Linked DNA regions of Homo sapiens. The protein of the gene in region 2 interacts with the protein of the main gene of each other region in a biochemical or structural test. Each region holds a gene or a part of one and is shown on either strand. Other genes may lie near its edges.

What was found. Proteins that work in one complex are often made in the same cells at the same time.
Region 1: the proteins of USP13 (region 2) and CLK3 form a complex in vitro, tested with the Homo sapiens proteins (one study listed by BioGRID).
Region 3: of the proteins of USP13 (region 2) and TOPBP1, one has a biochemical effect on the other in vitro, tested with the Homo sapiens proteins (one study listed by BioGRID).

The regions. Positions count from the first base shown.
Region 1 is NC_000015.10:74,610,905-74,618,836, reverse strand, and holds the start of CLK3 (dual specificity protein kinase CLK3), read right to left. Parts: upstream 3,002-7,932; 5' UTR 2,939-3,001; intron 1-2,938. UniProt on the Homo sapiens protein: Dual specificity kinase acting on both serine/threonine and tyrosine-containing substrates. Phosphorylates serine- and arginine-rich (SR) proteins of the spliceosomal complex.
Region 2 is NC_000003.12:179,648,721-179,656,050, forward strand, and holds the start of USP13 (ubiquitin carboxyl-terminal hydrolase 13), read left to right. Parts: upstream 1-4,319; 5' UTR 4,320-4,505; coding exon 4,506-4,673; intron 4,674-4,937; exon of another isoform or gene 4,938-4,952; coding exon of another isoform or gene 4,953-5,030; intron 5,031-7,330. UniProt on the Homo sapiens protein: Deubiquitinase that mediates deubiquitination of target proteins such as BECN1, MITF, SKP2 and USP10 and is involved in various processes such as autophagy, endoplasmic reticulum-associated degradation (ERAD), cell cycle progression or DNA damage response.
Region 3 is NC_000003.12:133,616,941-133,623,962, forward strand, and holds part of TOPBP1 (DNA topoisomerase 2-binding protein 1), read right to left. Parts: intron 6,518-7,022; coding exon 6,371-6,517; intron 6,254-6,370; coding exon 6,151-6,253; intron 3,408-6,150; coding exon 3,215-3,407; intron 1,494-3,214; coding exon 1,273-1,493; intron 387-1,272; coding exon 220-386; intron 1-219. UniProt on the Homo sapiens protein: Scaffold protein that acts as a key protein-protein adapter in DNA replication and DNA repair. Composed of multiple BRCT domains, which specifically recognize and bind phosphorylated proteins, bringing proteins together into functional combinations.

The DNA of each region.
Region 1 (7,932 bases), on a different chromosome or scaffold from region 2:
CTGCACTCTATTCCCTCCCGCCCGGGGGGGCGGTCCCGTGAAGTGAATGCTCTGTAAAGCCAAAGGCCAGGCAAAGGGCTGTACACAGGAGGCGAGGGCTCAAAGCCCTCAAGTTTGAGAAGCTGAACGCTGTCTGGCTAGGGCCCTGAACTGGACCCCACTCAAGGGAGTAAGGACCACAAGTGAGCATGAGGAGCCACAAGAGACTAGAAGAGCAGCCCTTGGAGAAAGAGGCACACAGGCCTCACAAACATTCCATAGCCCTCCTGAGGGTCAACCCAAGGGGACGTGGACCCAGCGCATCTAACTTTCTTTCCAGAGGCCCATTTAGCACCCTTTTAGACCCCCACAGTGCCCTGCCAGGTGCCTTGCCTTTATCCAACAGTACCGTTACTGTCCCTTCTTCTAGCTCTCTGGCTCTAGTATCCTACCCTCCGCCTATCCCAGGATAGCCAGAGGGTTAGCCATCTGGCAGGTAAAAGAGCCCCACCTCACTATCCCTGTTCAGTGAGGACTTATATCCACCAAATGAAATTGCCAGGCTGGATCTGCCACCAGCGGAGAAAGCTGGCCATGTGAGGCCAGCAACCTGCTCCACCCATACGTCAATCCCTGACTGCCTCCATGGAGCCAGCCTTCTTCCCAACACTCACACTTGGCCACAGCCAACCTCCAGTCATGGTCAGTCCTGAGCTTGCCTGGCCAAGCACATTTTGTACAAACCCACTGAGGCTGCCCCATCTCACCAGCAGGGTCTGTCAGGAGAAAAGCAGCATAGAACAGCTCCCCATGCTTGAGCAGGACAGTGAGGCCTATGTGACCAAACCCCTGGGAGCCTCTCCGTGTCCCTAAGAAAGCCCTCCATCTCCCCACTAACTTGTCTTCCCCCGTGTACCTGGGAAGTCTTTGGAGATAAATATTTTGTGAAATCACCTCCCCAAAAGCTTAGATTTGTTGTTTTGGTAATCAGCTGACTAATATTTCACTGTTTTCCTGCAATTACTCTGGGTCAGGTGCCCAAGCTATGGAATGAAAGCAGGAACTCACACCCCACTAATTGACCCAGAAGATGCTCTATTGGCCAGGGCACATGTCGTGCCACAAGGCAAGTATGGTCCTGCCCATCCTCACTGGGCAGACAAACACCAGAGCTGGAGGACACAGTCACAGTCACACCACGCCAAAGACTACCTCCTGGGACCTAGAAGATTCTTATGTCCATACATATTCACATCAATGGAAAACAAAATTTCAGAGTCATATAGATGTCAATCTGAATCATGGCTTGCCACTTCTAGCTGTGTGCCTTTGAACAAATTATTACACTACTCTGACCGTCAGCTTCATCTTGCAACAAGGGAATAGTAATCTCTTACAAGGTTCTGTGAGGATTAAATATCTCTCTCCTATAAGTGAAATGCCTAGCACAGCTTTGTGCCCACAGAGGTACTAGTGGCAGCTTTTCATGAACATCTGAAAGTTCCAGGTAACACTTCAGGGCTGTGTTAAATGCCTTACAGACATTTTATAAGTCCCTTCCAAGGAAACTGGGAGGCAAGAGCTCTGGCAGAAAACTAAACTAAATCCTAGTGCTGTCACATACCAGCCTCATGACCTTAGACAAGTCACTCTAGGCCTTGGTTAGCATGCCTGGAAAATGGAGATAACATCTCTCAGCCTGGCAAAAGAGATGACAAGCATGAGAGTTATAAGGTACCACACACAAAGCAATAACAGAGAAGAGTATCCTTCCTTTAACACATTCTAGGCAAGTAAAATATTGGAAATAGCAGATATCATCCTCCCAGCCAGGGCTCTAGGGCCCATTTCTCAATTATCTCTGATTCTCGAAAACCTCAGCAAACAGCTTGTTTAAAAAGCAGCTAAAGGCCACAATTATGCTTTGGGAAGCTCTGCTCTGCACAATGAGGAAAAAGGTGATATGAAGAAAACCAAGCCAAGGATGTCAACTTTGAGCACAGGCCTTGTCGGCTTCTCATTTGCTGTTCCTGGCCAGAGAACTGGGCTGACTAGAAGTGCAGCCAGCCAGGTCAGCGGCTGCCCTCCCGGATTCCAGCCACCCCAGCACCCATGGTTATTTTTGGCTGGACTGCCCTACCACTGCAACCTCAAACCTGCCACCTCGCAAGCCTCCACCACCAACGGTGAAACGCTCCTCCTTTTCAAGGGCATCAAGAAGGGAAGCTGGAAGGCCGCCAACTCCGCCTCTGATGGGGGCCTGGTTCAGGCAATTTCCACCCCAGCTCCACATCAGGGCACCCACACCCGGAACTAAAGCTAGAGACTCCCGGGCGGGACGGAGGAGCAGCCAGGGGATTTGAACTGTCAGCTTGGCCTAGCCCATCCTCCGGGCTGGAGTGGCTCTACCACCACAACAAAACACACAGGGGAGCCTGCGCCCTCGTTCGCGTCCCTTCCTGCCGCCCCAGGTCCCAGGGGGTCTCAGAGTCCCATCCCCTGTAACCGCCACCAGTGGCGCCGAGGGGAGACCCGGGGACAGAGGGAAAGCCGGACTGGGCCAGAATCAAACTCCAGGCCGCCAAGGGAGGAGTCATCTGCGGACTAAGCCTGAAGCCAGGGGTAGGGGAGGGGTCTGAAGGGCTTCTCTGGCTCTTCTACGTCGGACCCCGACCCCATTCCGCGGGCAGGCACAGAGCCCAAACTGGACCCTTGAGCGGCCCCAGAGGCCGTTCAGGCTCCGCCTTCAACACCGTGGGGTCGAGGTCAGGGTCTGCAGTGACCGCCCTCCGGGGCAGAAGCAGCGGGTCAGGGGTGAGAGGTCGCGGCCCGATATGGGCCGAAGAGGAGAAAGAAAGGGAGTAGGCCGAGACCGAATGGCACCAGCGCGCCTGCCCCGCCGACTCACCCCCGGCCGCCGCCGCCGCTGTCGCCGCCGCGGACCCCAGCCCACACTTACCGTCTCCCAGGCTCCGGCTGCAGCTAGGCCCCACTCCCCGCTCCGAGCGCCTCTTCCGCTTCCGGCTGCGACCTCCGCCCGTGGCAGCCCCGCCCCCTCGCGTGACGCAGCCGTCGCCAGCCTCGGCTCGACCCGGCTCGGAGGCCTGGCCGCTCTAGCCCCCGACTCGAAGGCTCCGGGGCACCAGCCCTCTCCGCTCCGGCGGGCGCCGCGGCCTAGGAGACTAGTTCCGGGAGGGCCGAGGGGACGAGCCTGGCCCGGCCCGCCTCCCGCCGTGTCGCGGCGCACGTAGGTCCCCCGACCTGACAGGTGCGCGGCCCGGGCCGGCTGGGCTCTCAGAGCCGAGAGGTGGGGCCCCGACCTGGCCGTGGGGCTGGGCCCGCTCCGTCGCCCCGACCCCGCGTGGTCCGCCAACTCCCTCCTGCGCGCGGAGAGGACGGGCATTGTTCTCGGGGCCCCGGAGAGCGCGAGAGCGGCCTGAGGTCTGTGTGCCGGAGCTCGGGAAGGCGGACGCGACTCCGCTTGCGCGAAACGAGCGAACGACACATTATTATCTTGGTGTGTGCGGGTTTTTTGAAAGCCGTGGTGGCGCTCCCAGCTCGCCAGTGCGTGCGGGGCAGTTTCTGGGAAGATACCCTAGAGCTACTCTGGCGGGGCCGGAGTCTGGAGGGAGGAGATCCCCTCTCCTTGAGCCCCCTCCTGTGGAGCGGCTTCCTGCCGGCCTGCGTGGCCTCTCAGTTAAGACTCCCCCGCTAGACAAAAGCCCCGCCGGCTGCGTCTCTGGGCCACTGGACAGCCCCCTTTTGCAGAGGCCTCGAGCGTGGGGTCACCAAAATCCCTGACACCTACTGTCCCGCGCCGGGTCGGACAGGATTACGAGGCCCCACTTTCCAGATGAGAAAACTGAGGTGGGGATCTTTTGAGACCTCACTGTGAGCGTGCGCGTCCCGCCCGGTCTGGGAGTGGCGTCCCCGGCCTCGCGAGCGTCGCGCAGTGAAGCGACAGGGCGTGGCGCCTAATTGTCCCCACGCCACGCGAGGGCTAGAAACCCGCAGTCGGGGCGGACCATCCCTCCAGGCACCGCCCCCTCCTTGGGACCGCTCCGCGGGGGCGCCAAGGGTTTCCCCAGCACCGCCCCGGCGGCCGCCAGCCAGCCGCGGCCCCGCCCATGCCCCTCCCCGCGGGTCTGGGCCCGCCCCTGAAGCGGGGAGGTGTCGCAGGGGAGCCCCCCGCTTCCGAGCTGCGGCTGCGCATCAAGTCCTTCGCCAGCGGCTCTCCCTGAAACGGGGGGTTTCAAGGCGTGATTTGTAGGGGTGTTTAGTATCCCCTAAATCTCTGCCAGCTCCACCATGGCTATCCGAAGTAAACAACAGAAGCTAATTCAAAACTGGGTCCCCTTCCAAAAAATTACAAAAATTAGCCGGACTGGGTGGCGCATGCCTGTAGTTCCAGCTCCTTGCAGGGGACTGAGGCAGGAGGATCGCTTGATCCCAGGAGGTTGAGATTGCAGTGAGCTATGATCACACCACTGCACTCCAGCCTGGTCGACAGAAGGAGACCCTGTCTCAAAAAATAAACAAAAAATCGGCCAAGCGCGGTGGTTCACCCCTCTAATCCCAGTACTTTGGGAGGCTGAGGTGGATGATCACCTGAGGTCAGGAATTCGAGACCAGTCTGGCCAACATGGCGAAACCCCGTCTCTACTAAAAATACAAAAATTAGCTAGACGTGGTGGCACGCGCCTGTAGTCCCAGATGCTCGGGAGGCTGAGGTGGGAGAATCACTTAAACCCGGGAGGCAGAGATTGCAGTGAGCCGAGATCGCGCCACTTCACTGCAGCCTGCGCAAGAGAGCAAAACTCCGTCTCAAAAAAGAAAGTTAGGAGCCGCTTCAGTGTACAGTGGGTGACCCAGATTGGCTGCTGAGGTCCTGCCCCCTAAGGTCCTATCTCAAAAGCTGAAGATTTTGAAAAATCCCAGGCCATCTGAGATGCCATTCCTGCCTGGTACCCATGGCCTCGACCACACTAGCCAGGTTCCATCTCGGGGTTTCATCAGCTCAGATGAGGTGGAGTAGGAGGCCTCTCTGGTGTCTCCTCCTCCCACCACTTAGTGTTGCCTGAGTTTCCATGGCTCCAGGATACTAGCCCTGAGGGATGGATGTTCTCAGAGAAGCTTCTGTCCCCGGGATGGATGTTCTCAGAGAAGCTTCTGTCCCCAGCCCTGCCCTGAGCTATAGGCTCTGATGGGGTAAGTTAGTCACCTTCCCACAAAACTGCCCACCACTGAGAATCCAGGAGTCCCTACCTCCCAGCCACGAAGCAACTCTCTTTTTCTGAGGTGGAACAGAAGCCATCTCCCAGCTGTCTCCCTCTCCACACTTTGCAGCCTGGAGGCCATCCTGCCTGAGATTCTACCCTTAGAGCTTCATTCTTTTGTGACTTTCACACCTTTCAGAAACTTGGAGAAAGATCTGCCCCCAGGTGAGGTTTGGGTAACTCCTCCACTCCCATCCCCACCTCAGAGGAGGCTTGCTCCACCTCCACTGCCCCTCAGGCCCAAGCTCCTGTCTGGGTCCTCAGCCTCTGTGGAGTTGAGGTCTGTAGCATATCTCAAGGGCACTGGGGAGGTGCCGCTGCCCTGCATCCTCCCAAACCCCACAGCTCCTCTCACCCCTTTTGGTCTCCCTTTTGCCCCCCACCTCCACTTCCACCAAGCTTAGGGCTCAGTTCACTGCCCGCCAGGCCCAGCTGCTCTGATGCCCTCCTTGTTCTATTGTCCTTACTGTCTCCTCTGTCTGCCTCATCTGACTTTGCCTTCTCTGGAGGCAGTTAATTCACCTCTGAGCCTTGGCCCCAGGGTCACCTCCCTGGAAAGCCTTCCTGGGGCTGCCCTGGCCTGCCCCCCTGCTCAGGACAATCTGGCCTGCATGTGCACTCCATTCTGTGGACCATGAGCCCCTCCCGGACCAAGCTGGGCACAGCTCAGCTTCTCACTAAGGGCAGGGGGCTGCCATGGAAAGCCTGTCACTTCTAACTGGCAAGACAGAGCACCCAGGTAGAGTGGCATTGTGGGAGCTGTACCCAGTATGGGAGGTGGGGGCAGCGGCCAGTCCTCATGGTCTGTCTTAGAGAAGCCTTGTGTGGCAGTGACATTTTGGAGGGGAGACAATTTTGGAGGGGGCTGCAGGAGCCTGGGCCTGGAGTAAGGGGAGAGGAGAGTCAAGCTGTCCAGTGGGGAGAAGGCCTGGTGGGCGATGGTGCCATCCTGAGTGGAGAAGGCCTGGGAATGTGAGGAGTGGGGAGGTCAGGGTGGGGGTGGTAGAGGTGCTAGGTGTAACCACTGCTTAGGTGAAGACAACTCCTGTGCCCTTTCAGAGCCAGGGCAGGGTGCCTCGTGCCCAGGGTTGGGAGTTGGGAGGCAGTGGACTTGGGCCCAGACCCTAGAGGTGAGGAGGGTGATGGTGAGGGGTGTAGGGATGGCAACACTGGCAGAATAGCCCCTGTCTACCCTCTGACCTTCCTCACCAAGCTGGTGGGTGAGAGGTCCGTCAGGGCCTCCATATTACAGCTGAAGCTATGGAAGCCAGAGAGGTACCTGAGCAGTGACTTGACTTAAGGGCTCTGACCCCCACATCATAGCTAAACTGTGGTGGCCCCCAAATGCTCCCCTGCCATTTCCAGACTTCCACACTGGAAGGGGGAACGTGGCTCTGGTGCAGACAGTGTTGGGTGGGGATTGCAGCTCCTCACGGGACTCCCTGCCGGACTTGGGCACCAATTTCCCCTCAGGAGTGCCTGCTGCGCCTCCCCAGACCAGCTGCTGTGAGGATAATGGGGTTTGTGTTCAGCAAGTGGCCACCCCTGGCAGCACCCACAGCTCATGGAAACCACTGGGAACTGAGAACTGTTTAGTGGAGTTGAGGCTGGTGTTTAGTGAAGTTCCAATCACCAGGAGACTTTCGGGCCAGAGGATCAGGGTTGAAGGGTTTTAGTGCGTGCTCAGCCAAAGGGCCTCAATTCTGAGTCTGAGAAGAGGCCTCAGAGCCTGGTGCTTTGGGAAGCCAAGACTACCCCAGCTCCAGGATCTGTCCTGTTCTCAGGTCCCACTGAGGCAGAGCCCATGGACTTGATGCCCAGCCCTGCCCGCTGTCTCTGGAACTCCTATTTCCTCGGGGCATTGGACCGTGTCTGCCCACCAAGCCCCACTGAAGGGTGCAGGTGAGCATAGGAAAGTTGGGCATGGCAGCCCCCTGGGGCCTGGGCTGAAGTCTGGCTCCTCTTTCCCTGGCATGTGCTCCAACAGGGCCCCCGAGCGGGACTGGAGGCGGGCAGAGAAGGACCTGTGGGAGCAGCTGGCAGAAAGCAGGCAGCAGAGGGCCGAGCTGGCAAGCCGTCTTCGGGCAGTGCCGGAGGCCCTGTCGGAGCAAGCCCTGGTGCTGCAGAGGCGGGAGCACAAGCTGGGACTTGGCTGGTCCCTAAAGCAGAAAGTGAGGCCCTGTCCTCCCCCATTCCTTCTTCCTGGGCTTTCTGTAGCTGAAAGGAGGTCCCCTGAGCTAGCAAGATCCCCTTAGCAGGCTGAAGCTCCAGAATGCCCAGAGCTGGTGTCCACATCTGGTGCCATATTCTCAGGGAGGCTTTCCGGGGTCTGGGGCACCCAGAGGAGAAAGGGAAATGGAGTCCCCAGCAAGGCTGCGGTGTTGAACAGAGATGTCTCTGAATGGTGCCCCTGGAAGGGTGCAGGGTGTTGCCTGAGAGGCATATGCTGGGGGTGGCTAGGGACACTGCTGGAGGTGAAGGAAGGGCCAGGGTCCCTGTGGCCCCCCAGGGAGAATCTGAGGGAGGGAGGGGCTGGTTTTAGCTCCATAGACTGAAGAGCTTCCTTAGAAGCCCAATCTCCCCGAGTGAAACAGGCGAGCCCCAGAGAGGGGGAGATGGCTGTGCAAGCTGAGGGTTCTTGGGAAGGTTACCAGGATCTCTGCCTCATGTGAGGGTA
Region 2 (7,330 bases):
AATATACTGTATGATAAAAATGATACAAACACCATTTAGTTGCCGTCAATAAGAAATTTACTTGTTTTTAAAAAAATCCAAATGCTGGCATTGTCCAGAAAAATTTAACACGTTTATTATAATTATTATAAAGTTAAACTGCTGAAACTTGTTCACTGAAACATTTTGACTCGCATTAATGCTTTACGTCCCCACATTTATATTAAAAATTCACACACAAATGAAAATGGAAAAACTGCCAATACCTGATTTCTGTCCCCTATTTTTCCACTCGCAATCATATATACTTAGTACGTTTTGACCCCATGGGAAAAAAAAAATAGATAACGTTCAGAACTACCAACAACAGGTAAAAGAAATTGTGTGTGTGTGTGTGTGTGTGTGTGTGTGTGTTAGAATGAAGTGTTTCCCATCATAGTGGCTTCTTTTTTTTTTTTTTTTTTTTTCTGAGACAGGGTTTCGCTTTTCTTGCCCCAGGCTAGAGTGCAATGGCGCGATCTCGGCTCACTGCAACCTCTGCCTCCCAGGTTCAAGCGATTCTCCTGCCTCAACCTCCTGAGTAGCTGGGACTACAGGCATGCGCCACCACACCTGGCTGGTTTTGTATTTTTAGTAGAGATGGGGTTTCTCCATATTGGTCAGGCTGGTCTCGAACTCCCGACCTCAGGTGATCCGCCCGCTTCGGCCTCCCAAAGTGCTGGGATTACAGGCGTGAGCCACCGTGCCCAGCATAGTGGATTCTTAAGCACATTCTTCAGGTATGTGGTGTGTTAGCTGGATGTCTTTTGGCATAATTGTTACATGTTCGGCATGGATAGCACACAGGTTGGTGTCTTCAAAAAGACCAACCAGGTAGGCCTCACTTGCCTCCTGCAAAGCACCAACAGCTGCACTCTGGAAGTGCATATCTGTTTTAAAGTCCTGAGCAATTTCTCGCACCAGACACTGGAAGGGAAGTTTGCGAATCAGAAGTTCAGTGGACTTCTGATAACGTCTAATTTCACGAGTGCCACAGTACCAGGTCTGTAATGATGAGGTTTCTTCACCCGTCCAGTAGAGGGCGCACTCTTGCGGCGTTTGTAGCTAGTTGCTTCCTGGAGTTTTTTTTGTTTGTTTTTTTTTGCTTTTTGTTTTTTTTTTTTTTTTGTTTGAGACGGAGTCTCACTCTGTCGCCCAGGCTGGAGTGCAGTGGCGCGATCTTCGCTCACTGCAACCTCCGCCCCCCAGGTTCAAGCGAGTCTCCTGCCTCGGCCTCCCGAGTAGCTGGGACTCCAGGCGCCTGCCACCGCGCTCAGCTATTTTTTTTTTTTTTTTTTTTTTGTATTTTAACTAGGGACAGGGTTTCACCATCTTGGCCAGGCTGGTCTTGAACTCCTGACCTCGTGATCCACCCGCCTCGGCCTCCCAAAGTGCTGGGATTGCTTCCTGGGTTCTTTACCACCAATTGATTTTTGGGCAGTCAGCTTTGTACCAGCCATGGTATAGTGACCTCCTTACTTAGACCCGTTCTTCTGCTGGAGCGTGGCGAGTGACAGGCGGCGCTGGTGTTGGAGAGCGATGGCTGAGTTTTAATTAACTTTTAAAGCAATACTTGAGGCCGGGCGCGGTGGCTCACGCCTGTAATCCCAGCACTTTGGGAGGCCGAGGTGGGAGACCAGACTGGCCAACGTGACGAAACCCCGTCTCTACAAAAAAAAAAAAAAAAAAACAACAAAAAATTAGCCTGGCGTGGTGGCGTGCATCTGTGGTCCCAGCTACTTGGAAGGCTGAGGCGGGAGAATCGCTTCAACCCAGGAGGCGGAGGTTGCAGTGAGCTGAGAGCGCGCCATTGCAGTCCAGCCTGGGCGACAGAGGGAGACTCCATCTCCAAAAAGAAAGGGGGGGAAAAAGCAATACTTGCACATAATACAAATGGAATCATACAGAAAGCTACAAAGTGGTAGTGTAGTAATCTGTTTTCACGCTGCTGACAAAGACATACCTGAGACCGGGCAATTTACAAAAGAAAGTTTTATTGGACTTACAGTTCCATGTGGCTGGGGAGGCTTCACAATCATGGTGGAAGGTGAAAGGCACGTCTCAGATGGAGGCAGACAACTGGAGAGAGCTTGTGCAGGGAGACTCACGTTTGTAAAACCATCAGCTCTTGTGAGACTTATTCACTATCACAAGAACAGCACGAGAAAGACCTGCCCCCATGATTCAATTACCACCTACTGGGTCTCTCCCACAACACGTGGGAATTCAAGATGAGATTTGGGTGGGGACACAGCCCTACCATACCAGGTAGTAAGTTCTCCCTTAACCTCAGGCTTTCAGTTCTTCTCCACAGAGCCTGACTAGTTTCTTGTGTATTGCTCTAGAGACATCCTAAAGCCAAACAAGTGGGCATGCATACACATATGTATATTTTAAGGGGCTACATTAAAAATATTTACTACAAGTACAACCAACTGGAATGAAGGCCCATGGTATATAGGATGTGCCAAAATGCCTACTGCATATTATCAGCCTTGCATGTATTCCTTGCTTTTATACACTAGTTTGCTTAAATTGCTTTTATCATCTAGTAATAATTTGGAGATTGTTCCACATCAGCACACGTAGAGCAACTTCATTCTTTTCAATGGTACTGTATTTTAACCACTTTCTACAGAAGGATCTTTAGGTTTTCCCCAGACGTTTGTTACTCGAAACAGTGCTCTAACAAATATCTTTACACAGCCTTAATTTATCTGTTGCATAAATGTCTAGACAAGGAAATGCTGGGGAAAACAGTATGCACATATAAAGTTATGACTGGTATTATTACATTTCCTTCCAAAGAGGTTTATCGTTTTTATCCCCACCAACAATGTAATGAGGGTCTACTTCCCAAACCCATGCTAACTCAATATATCTTTACCAGCCCAAAGGATGAAAAACAGTGTCTCACTGATTTAATTTGTATTTAATCTAAGATTAAATTTTAAGTTTTGTAAAACCAAGTTTATCTCTGTAATTGGAGAAAACATCATCCATTAACGTGAAAGGTAATAAGCTGATGAGACTAAATTCAAAGCAAAAGCTCGCTGAGAGGATCTGCCCAATGAGGAAGATGACAGTAGTGTCTGATTTTTTGCTCAGTGCCACCTCCTCCTTTTCCAACAGATAGCATTTGGGAGTGCTGAGTTATAAGAAAGTGTGGTGCGCTCGAGGCTTGCTTGAGGGTATGGAAATCTTGAGATAGGTCTGGAGAACCAGGGAGAGTTAAAAGAGAAAAAAAGTAAGAAAAAAAAAAGAACTTAAGGACTATCTGATCTGAGAGAGGCTTACAAAAATTAGCGTTTTGGTTCACTATTTCTCGCTATTTCTGCATTTCATTAACTGGCAGGGATCACTGGATACTCTGTCATGAATACATATGTTGGGTGTAGTTAGAGAACCTCAATGTCATTGAACCCGTCTTGTGGGTTTTTTGGAGAGAATGAGAGTATGCTGGGAGACATGCTCTGCTTGCAAATGATCAACCCCCGAGGCCAACCCCATTCATCATTTATTTTGAGGAACTGATGATCAAGACAGGAATATGTATGCCTGCCTACAAAATCCTCAAATCAGGCCACTGAATGTTCGACATGAGAACTTTGAATCACATAGAAGATACTCCAAAGGCAGAGAAAAATAGAAAGCCTTCCGACGCCCTGAAAAAATCTTGACCATCCCTGACTTCCCCCAATATGTAAGAAAACCTGTATTATTATTACACACACACTCCCACACACACCCCGCCCTCCCCCACACACACACCCTCTATCCTCACTCGATCTTATTCTATTCGCTCTATTTTTGAGCCTTGGATGTTAAAGTAAGGAACGAAGCTTAGTGGGGAAGCACTGAAGTGCATGGCGCAAATTTAGATTTAAGCCTCACGTTAGATTTCAGATTTGCACATCGAGTCCCGCCCCTATCCAATCCGGGGACGTCACCGCCCTAGTCTTCGGCTGTTTTAAAAGCAAGCGGTTTTTAAAACCCCCAATCCTGCTCTTTGTGTTGGCCTCCTCGGAGTTGCCCCTCTGCAAGCCAACAATTCGGGATAGAAAACACCTCCGTGGTGTTTTCCCGGGGCCCTCCCGCGCCGCGTTCGGCCGCCAGCCCGCTCGAGCTCCCGCGCCAACGCCTCAGGGGTTCGCCCTCCGCCCCCCGCCGCCGCGCCCGGCCCACGCGCAGGGCCCCTCTCCAGCGCCCCCTCCCCGGCACGCTGCGGCTGGCGCTCCCCAGCCCCGCCTGACGCTGCAGCTGGGCCGGAGACTCGCCATTGGATTAAAAATAGCGTCGCCAGTCCGCCCCAAGCCCGCGGTGCCCGCTCCCGCCCCGCAGCCCGCTCTCCCCGCCCGCCCCGGCTCGGCCGGCTGCCGTTGCCCGCGCAGCCCGCCCGTCAGCCCGCTCGCTGGCGCCGCCGCCGCCGGCAGACCCCGCGCTCCGGCTCCGGCTCGGCTCGCTCGGCTCCGGTGCGCGCCGAGGCCATGCAGCGCCGGGGCGCCCTGTTCGGCATGCCGGGCGGCAGCGGAGGCAGGAAGATGGCTGCAGGAGACATCGGCGAGCTGCTAGTGCCCCACATGCCCACGATCCGCGTGCCCAGGTCCGGCGACAGGGTCTACAAGAACGAGTGCGCCTTCTCCTACGACTCTCCCGTAAGTGAGGCGCCTCGGGGGAGGGTCGCGGGGCCGGCGGCCTGCGGCACGTGAAGCCGGGGGAGAAGATGCGCAGTGGCGGCCGGGACCTCTTCTCTTCCTCCGGGCGGCAGAGTTGGCTCAGGAACACTGCAGTTCGGCAGACACTTAGTGAGCGCCCCAGGGCTGCTGCAGCCGAGGACTGGCTCGTGCTGGTGGTTTTGCTCCGCCAGCCTCCCCAGGCTGGAAGGGCCCGATTCCCAGCAGCTTGCACACAGCCCCGCCGCCGTTTAAAGATAGATGAAATACAAGAGTTCCCTGTTCCGAACTGCACGTTGCAGATCGTTTGCGTCCTCCGCGGGGCAGAGCGCAGGGCGGGTAGGTGGACGGGATGATCCCCCCACACCCCGGGACACACACAGCCCTTCTTTTTCTGGGACCACTTGCTTTGCTCAGGGATCCCCACTTCTGGACAATTCTGATTTGCTCTCTGAGCTTTTCTTCCACCAGTTCCCATTTCACCCCACTCCTTTTCTTGTCTTTAGAATGTCAGGGCCAGGCGCGGTGGCTCACGTCTGAAATCCTAGCACTTTTTAAGAGGCGGAGGCGGGCGGATCGTTTGAGGTCAGGAGTTCGAGACCAGCCTGGCTAATATGGCGAAACCCCATCTCTACTAAAAAAGAACCCCAAAATTAGCCGGGCGCGGTGGCGGGAGCCTGTAGTCCCAGCTACTCGGGAGGCTGAGGCTTGAGAATCGCTTGAACCGGGAAGGAGGAGGCTGTAGTGGGCCGAGATCGCGCCACTGCCCTCCAGCCTGGGCGACAGAGCGAGACTCCGTCTCAAAAAAAAAAAAAAAAAAATGTCAGACGAAACCTTCCGGTGCCTCCACTCGGGCAGCAGAAATAGGGGATCTACTGGATTGCGATGGTTTTCTTAAGCCTTCCCCACCTTGCCCTTCTAAATGAGTCACTTGGACTGACATGCGCAAGTATAAATTATTAAAAGTTCAATCCCGAGTCGTGACCTCGGAGAATGAGGAGGAAGCTGAGAGGGATCGCCGCCTTCCACCCGGGGCGGTTGGTGGTGGTTTTCACCTGGTTCTATGTGAATGTGTGAGAAGCAGCAGGAGGGTGAATGTCCCTTTCAAAAGTCAAAATGGGCTTCAAAGTGACTCAGCTGTCTGGCGTTTATCATGTCTTTTTGAGGACCAGGTTATTTTTATCCACCCACTTTAGATCTCATATGTCACCCGGCAGATCTCAATGCATTGGGAGGCGCATGGATTGGATGGACCGAGGCAGGTCTCGCAATGGTCTAATGTATTTTATTCATAGCATGTGGACTATTGTCAGAGGGGAAAAGAAAAGTCCAAATGAGCGGCAACATTTCCAAAGTTTCCTTTATTATCTGTGGGTTGATTTTGGCTGGCTTCAAAGCACTTTTGCTCGACACACACTGGAGTATCAGAGTTAGTATCCTCTCTGTGACATTTAGTTTTTTTATTTATGGTAACTCCATATCATTTGAGGGATGAAACCTAACTTAATTTTTGATTGTTTACTTTTTTTTTCTTTCGAAAAGATCCACAGAGTGGAGTGTGACAATCGGCAGTCCTTTTTTAGGATGTTATCCATAAATTATTTGAAAATGCCATTTTCAGATTGTATGGCCAGTGTTGGGCAGTTCCCACTAATAGCTTCTAAAGGTGGAGAGGGATGATGGTCCTAACTTAAGCAATTGACAGATTGTTACCTCCAGGAAGAAGAAAGTGGCCTAAGTTTTTTAGGATAGCACAACATGGAAAGTGGGTCAAATGACTTTCCCCATGTTTTGATTTGGGCTCTTCTTCAAGTTCTGCTTACAAACTTTGCTCTTGGAAGTTTTTGCTGCATAATGCAGTGGATAACAGGTGTGGGAAAAAAGGCTGATTGTTTTAATTCATTTCCACAAATAGTTATTGGGAGCTTACTGTGTGTGTTTCTAGAATGTTACTATTCTAGAAACATCTCGTCCAGTGTAGACTGATGATTGCAATCATATCACAGCAGTTCCTTAGGGGAGACTGGGATTATTTACAAGGCTGATGAATCAGTATATTTCATTATCTATGTTTCAGGGGAGGAAGGGAAGGTTTGATAATATTTATCTTAAAGCACAGTGCGTGATAATGGGAAGGTTTTTTTTGTTTTGTTTTGTTTTTTTTTTGAGTTTTGCTCTTGTTGCCCAGGCTGGAGTGCAATGGCACAATCTCAGCTCACTGCAACCTCTGCCTCCTGGATTCAAGTGATTCTCCTGCCTCAGCCTGCCAAGTAGCTGGGATTACAGGCGTGTGCCACCACACCTGGCTAGTTTTGTATTTTTAGTAGAGGTGGGTTTCGCCATGTTGGTTAGGCTGCTCTCGAACTCCTGACCTCAAGTGATCCACTCACCTTGGCCTCCCAAAGTGCCAGGATTACAGGCGTGAGCCACTGCACCCAGCCAGTATTTTGTTATGGTATGTAACACTATACTATGAATCCAATAAGGGATTCTTCAGCACCTACTATGTGCCATCTCATACATGCATGACTGTAAGGAGCATAAAGAGCAAAATCCATTGGTGCTAAACACGCCAGAAACTTTAATCCACAAGTGCCACGGGATGTCTTAGGGAAAAGGCCAAAACCAGCTGAGTGGAA
Region 3 (7,022 bases), about 46 Mb from region 2:
TACTTTAGAAAAAATTAACATTAAAAATGATCAGATACACAGTTCTTTTATAGTGGTATTTTACTCAGTCTTCTAAGTTATGAAATATACAAATAATGATACAATGCAAAAAATAGTTTTCAACATTTGATGAAGCCTTGATATTGACATCAACAAATTTCTAATACAGCCTAACAGCAGTATGCAAAAGCTGTATCACCATATTAAGGATCAACAAACCTTTTCTCTAGGGTGCGGAGCCACAGGGGGGTTGGCGAGTGGAAAGGCAATACTGGGGGCTTGAGGCGTAGGGATCAGGTGGCTGTCTTTTATGGGAGTTTCCAGTTCTTCAGAGATTGGGTGTTTGGGAGCTTCAGTCACACGTATGTTTCCAGGATCACAGACAGCTGAGGACAATAAAATGCTGCAGTGTGACAGGATCCAAATAAGACTAAAAACAAATTCTAGGAAATATTCTCATCTGTCTTAGTCAAGATGAAGTCAAGCACAAACTCTGGAATGTAAAAAGTACAGGCAAAAAAGTATCCTATCCCCAGAACTTATAAATAAATGCATCCCATCTGCATGTGACAATAATAACAATAAAGAAAAAATGCAATTTATTAGCATTAAACAGAGCAAGTGTGTTATCTGTGGGCTTCTCCCAACATTTTCCTTAAATACCAAGTTTTCATTGTTAAGTGTAACCCAAATTTGTAACATGAGAGCAATTCTACACTTGGAGAAAAGCAGAAGCAGAGATAAATCTATATATCTAATGGGAGGTCATCATGCAATGTGAAAAAGAAGAAAAGGAAGAAAAAAGATGAGAGATAGGAAAATTTTGTTTTTAAGGTAAAGCTCAAGGAAGAAAAAAAATAGGAGAATTCAGAAAGAAACTCATACAATCCAAAGAACAAATGTAGGTATGTGCTAGGCAGAATTCAAAAGACTTAAATGAAAATAAGATGATAGGAAGAAAAACCAAGCATTAACTCCACAAACACAAAAAGGGTTAGCTAGAATAAAAGAACAATGGTAGACACCATGTCTAGAAAAAAACGCCCAATTCTAAATTTCCAAATTTATGAAAATGTTTTTCAATTTACTGATGAAGTACCTCAATTTACAAATTATTTTTCTGGCTCAAGTTTAAACCAAAACCAGAAATATCTACGAAGTTTTTTTTGTTTGCACATTCAGATCAGAGAACTACAACATGCTCATCTGTTTATTTTTAAGAGGTCAACATGTACTTAATACAAACAAATGCAAAGATTTCTTTCTTGTTACCCTGTTTAGCAATTTCTGAATCATGTAAAGGCTTTTGAAAAGGAGAATCCTCCAAGTTTTGAATGTCAACCTGAAGCTCAGAGTATTGTGTGGGACAACTAGGCCACTGCAAATTGCTGGCAAGCCTTGCTCTCTCCTCCCTTGCTGTAGGGTCATCCCAAATGATCTGTTCATTTTGGGAAGGCTCTGTGTTGACATCAGGTACTGTCTGACGAGACTGCCTAAGGAATAGAAGTGACAGTTTAAATAAACAGCAATAACAAATCCAAACTCATTAAATCCATAAGTTAGACCATAAAAGTTGTGGCTCACCTTTATATGCCCACCATCTAGCACACAGTATGCATTAAAAATATTAAATAAATGAACCTAGGGACATTTTTTTTTTTTAAAAAGGTTTAAGGTTTCTTCCAGAAAAGTTATCTGTTTTAGCTAGGAACACATATTTTGACTACATGTCTACAGAACTAAAACTTCAAAGGAGAAATTCAACAGTGTCAAGAAATTTTTTAAAAATACTAAAGTAATTGGTACATTTAAAAATGTGATTTTCCTTAATTATACAGGTTAGGGAAACAGGGTAATGTTTCAAACACTATGGTTACTTTACTTAACAGTAGTTATATTTTTTAATTACTTGAAATTATAAGCACTATGATTACATGGGAGGCTTGCTGTAAAGGCTGCCTTATCAGAAGGGCCTTTTGGCTATTGGTAACCACTTTCCAGAGTCTACGGTGGAACAGCAATATGCTGAATTACAGGGAAGTGCATTTTATGGTGCGATTGTAATGATTCCACGTGACAGTAAATAGAAGTCCTATAATTTTCTTTATATTCACTCATTCATTCATTCTTAGTAAAAATAATTTACCATAAAACTTACACTGTGGAGAAGCAAAAAAAAAAAAAACAAAAAACAAAAAACAAAACAAAACACCAAAACCCATAAAACAATTTACCAAAGGAACCCCCAAATAGTTCCTTTGCTTCAAAAATAAAGAATATAGCCTTTTATTCTCACACTATATTTATTTACTCTGATTTGGTACAGGATTTAGGTTCTCTATAATGATAAAACATGATCTGAAGCATATTAAAAAGCTACTTTACTCAGTACTGAGATAATGAACTGCCTCATGTAATACAGTTAGCGTAAGATAAATGCTAGTTTATCTTATACTTAATTCAATTAGTCAACTGAAAATACAAGTCCCATAATTCTTATCACACAATTATAGATTTTTTTCTTCTATCACGAAAAAGATGAAGTTATGCAACTGAGCTTAAGTCACATCACACTAGAAACTGTAATCACCTTTTCTAGAAGATAAATTTTACAAGGAGAATACAAAATGCATGCAAAATCCCAACAAAAATAACTTTAAGATTTTACATATTGCATTAGAAAAAGACTCTGAAAAAATATATATGTACTTATTGTTTAATACAAATACTATTGAATACTAATACTAAAGAGCAGAGAGAACTGCCTACTGAATCCATTTCAAATGAGGCAAATTAGATCTTAAAATCATTTCTTTCTCAACGGAGGTAATAAAAAGTATCAATCATGCCTCACTGTGAAGCAGGTGCTGCTGTAAGACAAATCTCCATGTCTGCTCCACCTCCGAGTAAGAAATCTAGAACTGCTGGGAGCAAGAAATGGAAGGACAAGCTAGAACGAAAAATCTAGTCAGCAGAGAGCCAAAAGCAATAGATAATACTGGAATATAATATTTACTGTTTGGGCTAAATAAGGCCTAGGCATATAACCCCTTCACTAGTCTTGATATTTAAATTTCAGCTTTTACTGCATATTGGGGAAAAAAAGAAAAAAAAGCTAAATTAGGCCAAGCTCATGGAATTGAGTCAGCAGCAGGTACGTAAATCCTTTCTCTCAAGTCATCTAGTCTTTCTGCCATCAGTGACAGGTACACACCTCAGTGCCTCTAGGACTCTACTTCGTCCACTGCGAGCAGAGCGAGTGCTGTCAGGGGTTGAAGATGCGCTGTTACAACCACTTCTTGAAAGGGAAGTCCTCTGCCCTTGGGGTTTCACTATTGATGTTGCAGACATTATCTCCTGTAACTGCTTCTGAAAGTTCTCTCTCATCTCTAAGGTCTGTGTCAGAACTTGAAACAAACACAAATACACCATTCAAGGTAAGTTCCTCTTTTTTACCATATCTTACATTAACTATTTTGTTTAGACCTGGTTGAACACAAACTTATTGACTTGACATTTACTGAATATTAACTACAGGCTATAGTAATGTACTAAAACTATGAATACTGCAGAACATAAAAAGCAGCCCTTACCACAAGCACTGTATATGAAATAACTAGGAAGCCCTTCAAATACTTTTTTTTTTTTTTTTTTGGTGATAGTCTAGCACTGTCGCCCAGGCTGGACAGTGGTGCGACCTCGGCTCACTGCAACCTCCACCTCCCAGGTTCAAGCAATTCTCCCTGCCTCAGCCTCTCAAGTAGCTGGGATTACAGGTGCCCATCACCATGCCGGGCTAATTTTTGTATTTTTTAGTAGAGACGCGGTTTCGCCACGTTGGCTAGGCTGGTCTTGAACTCCTGACCTCAGGTGATCTGCCCACCTCAGCCTCCCAAAGTGCTAGGATTACAGGCATGAGCCACCGTGCCTGGCCCCCTTCAAAGACATTTCATCAAGACCTGTAGTGATTATCCCTCTGTAAAGCTCCCTGCCTGCTTCTGACTCTCATGGTATGTACTACACTCTGAGATGTCTTATAGTCATTTGTGTATGTGTCTGATTTTTCCCAAAGATTCTTTTAATTTTTTAGAGACAGAGTCTTGCTCTGTGGCCCAGGCTGGACTGCAGTGGTATGGTCATAGCTCATTATAACCTCTAACTCCTGGGCTCAAGTGATCCTCCAGCCTCAGCAACCTGAGTAGCTGGCACTACAGGTGTACATTACCACGCCCAGCTAATTTTTTAAATTTTTTGTAGAGACAAGGTCTCACTATGTTGCCCAGGCTGATCTGGAACCCCTAGCATCAAGCAATCCTCTTGCCTTTGCCTCCCAAAGCTCTGAGATTACAGGTGTGAGCCACCGTGCCCAGACTCCCCAAAGGCTCTTGAAAACACAGACCACAACATACATCCAGCCCTCCACATCCACCGGTTCTGCATGCATGGATTCAACCAAGTATGGATCAGAAATATTTTAAAGACATAAAAATGAAAAATATCACAATTAAAAGTACCAGTAAAAAAAATAAAATATAACTATTTACAAAACATTTACAGTGCATTAGGTATTATAAGTAATCCAGAGATGATTTAAAGTATACAGGAGGATGTGCATTGGTTAAATTCAAATCCTATGTCATTTTATACATAAGGAACTTAAGCATCTGTGGATTTTGGTACCTGAGGTAAGTCCTCGGAACCACTGCCACATGGATACCAAGGGACAAGACAACTGTATTTACCTTTGGTTTTCTTTAAAGCCTAAACTCTGGAGTAAGTATTAAATAAATGCATTTGGAATGAACAGAGTGAGACTAACCAAATAGGTAAGTCATAGGGAAAGCTTTGGTAGGTTAGAATGAGTAAGGAAAACAGAACATATTAAATCTATTAAAAGACATCCATGTATAAGGTTATTCACTGCAGTACTATTTATAAAAGCAAGAAAGTAGAAATAACCTAAATGCCTATTAAGAATGGATGCCTAAACAAAGTGGGACCATTCATAATGAATACAATACAGTTGCCCAAAAAGAAAGAAAAGGGAAGAAAGAAGGAAAGGGAAAGGAAGGGAAGAGGGAAAGGAGAGGAAGGGGGACAGGAAGGAAAGGGAGGGAAGGAAGGAAGAAAAGCAAGAAAGAAAAAGACTAAAGAAGCTCCTAGTTATCTACTGATATAAAACACTACCCAAGGTAACAAAAAGATCAGCGTATGAAATAGCATGTATAGTAGTCCACCATTTATGTTTTTTTTTTTTTTTTTTTTTGAGACAAGAGTTTTGCTCTTCTTGCCCAGGCTGGAGTGCAATGGCATGATCTCGGCTCACCGCAACCTCCGCCTCCCGAGTTCAAGCGATTCTCCTGCCTCAGCCTCCCGAGTAGCTGGAATTACAGGCATGCAACCACCATGCCCGGCTAATTTTTTGTATTTTTAGTAGAGACGGAGTTTCTCTATGTTGGCCAGGCTGATCTCAAACTCCTGACCTTGGGTGATCTGCCTGCCTCAGCCTCCCAAAGTGCTGGGATTACAGACACGAGCCACCATGCCCAGCCTATGTGTTTGTTTGTTTTTTTTTAATGGGGGAAAAACATATTTACGGCTATATATGCATAAAGCAGCTCTAGAAGGATACATAAGGAACTAATAACACTGGGGGGCTGGAGAATAAGGGTGGAAGAAACTCTTCATATGTCTTTTTGTATCTTTAAAACCATGTGGATATGTTAAAATATATTGTACATATAAGAAAACTTTTTGAAAATCACTCAAAAGAACTGGACCAAAGACTAGATTTTTAAAAAATCACCAACTTCACCTACCTTTAATGGAATAGGGCTGTATCACACTAACTCCATAAAAACCTAGTTTCATAAATTTCATAAGCTTTACACTTAAACTACATAAAACTTTGCAAATTATCACTTAATGATCAGCATGGGACCACAAATCAATCCTCTAATATATGCTTTGCTTGTATTTAGTAATTTAAACATATTTTACAGCTGGGTGCAGTGGCTCACAAGGCAGGAGGATCCTTTCAGCCCAGGAGTTTCAGACCAGTGTGGGCAAGATGACAAGACCCCATCTCCACAAAAAATTGAGACCTTGTCTCAAAAAAAATTTTTTTAATTAAAAAATAAAATATTTTACCTCCTTTAGAGTCATTCTTTCCACTTCCATTTGATGGTGCTGACTCTTTATTATTGGTGGCCATATTGTCTACATCATTTTCTTCTAAAATCAAAGGATCTGGCTATTGAAAAAGAAAAATTATAAATTCTCAAACCAAGCCACTGTATAAGGTTTCATAGCAATATATGATTATACCTTTAGCTTAAGAGGGGGTAAATGTATCATCCATATCTCCTACCTCATCATCCTTTGTTGAAGACACAGCTGAGAGTAGTCGACTATTACAGAGCCGGCCATCTTGCACTGCGCTGATATCCAAGCTCATTTTGGGATTATAAGTATGTGGATAAAGAGATTCAGGAAGATGTTTACACTCTTGGGCACACTGCAATACAATGGTGTGCTTTAAGACAGGACTGACAAAATCTTAATGAATAGATGATGTTAAGTAGGATAAGGACAAGCAATACATTATACTGTAATATGGCAAAAAGTTCACAAAACTGGTTTGAAAAGTAGTTTACACTGAAAAATTTGCATCATACAAATGACAGATTGTCCTCATGTTTTAAATGTCATATCCACTGAAGTATAAAATCTGAAACCATTCCTGTGCTTTTGCAAAGGTATCAATTACCCTCCAGAGAATACCCAGGAAAAAAAAGAAACACAGATCTAAACTCTATTGATATGTTAAATTTTCCCCAAATAATTATAAACTTTCCATTCATATCACATTTTTAATTAGTACAAGGAAATGGAGAATTAGAAAGAGTATCCATTAAAGATTTGTTAAGTATTTAAGGACTAAAGATGTTAAGTTTTTGATGCCAAAGATCTGAAATGTGTACAGTTAACCAAGACTATTAAACTGGCTTCTAGTTCCATTG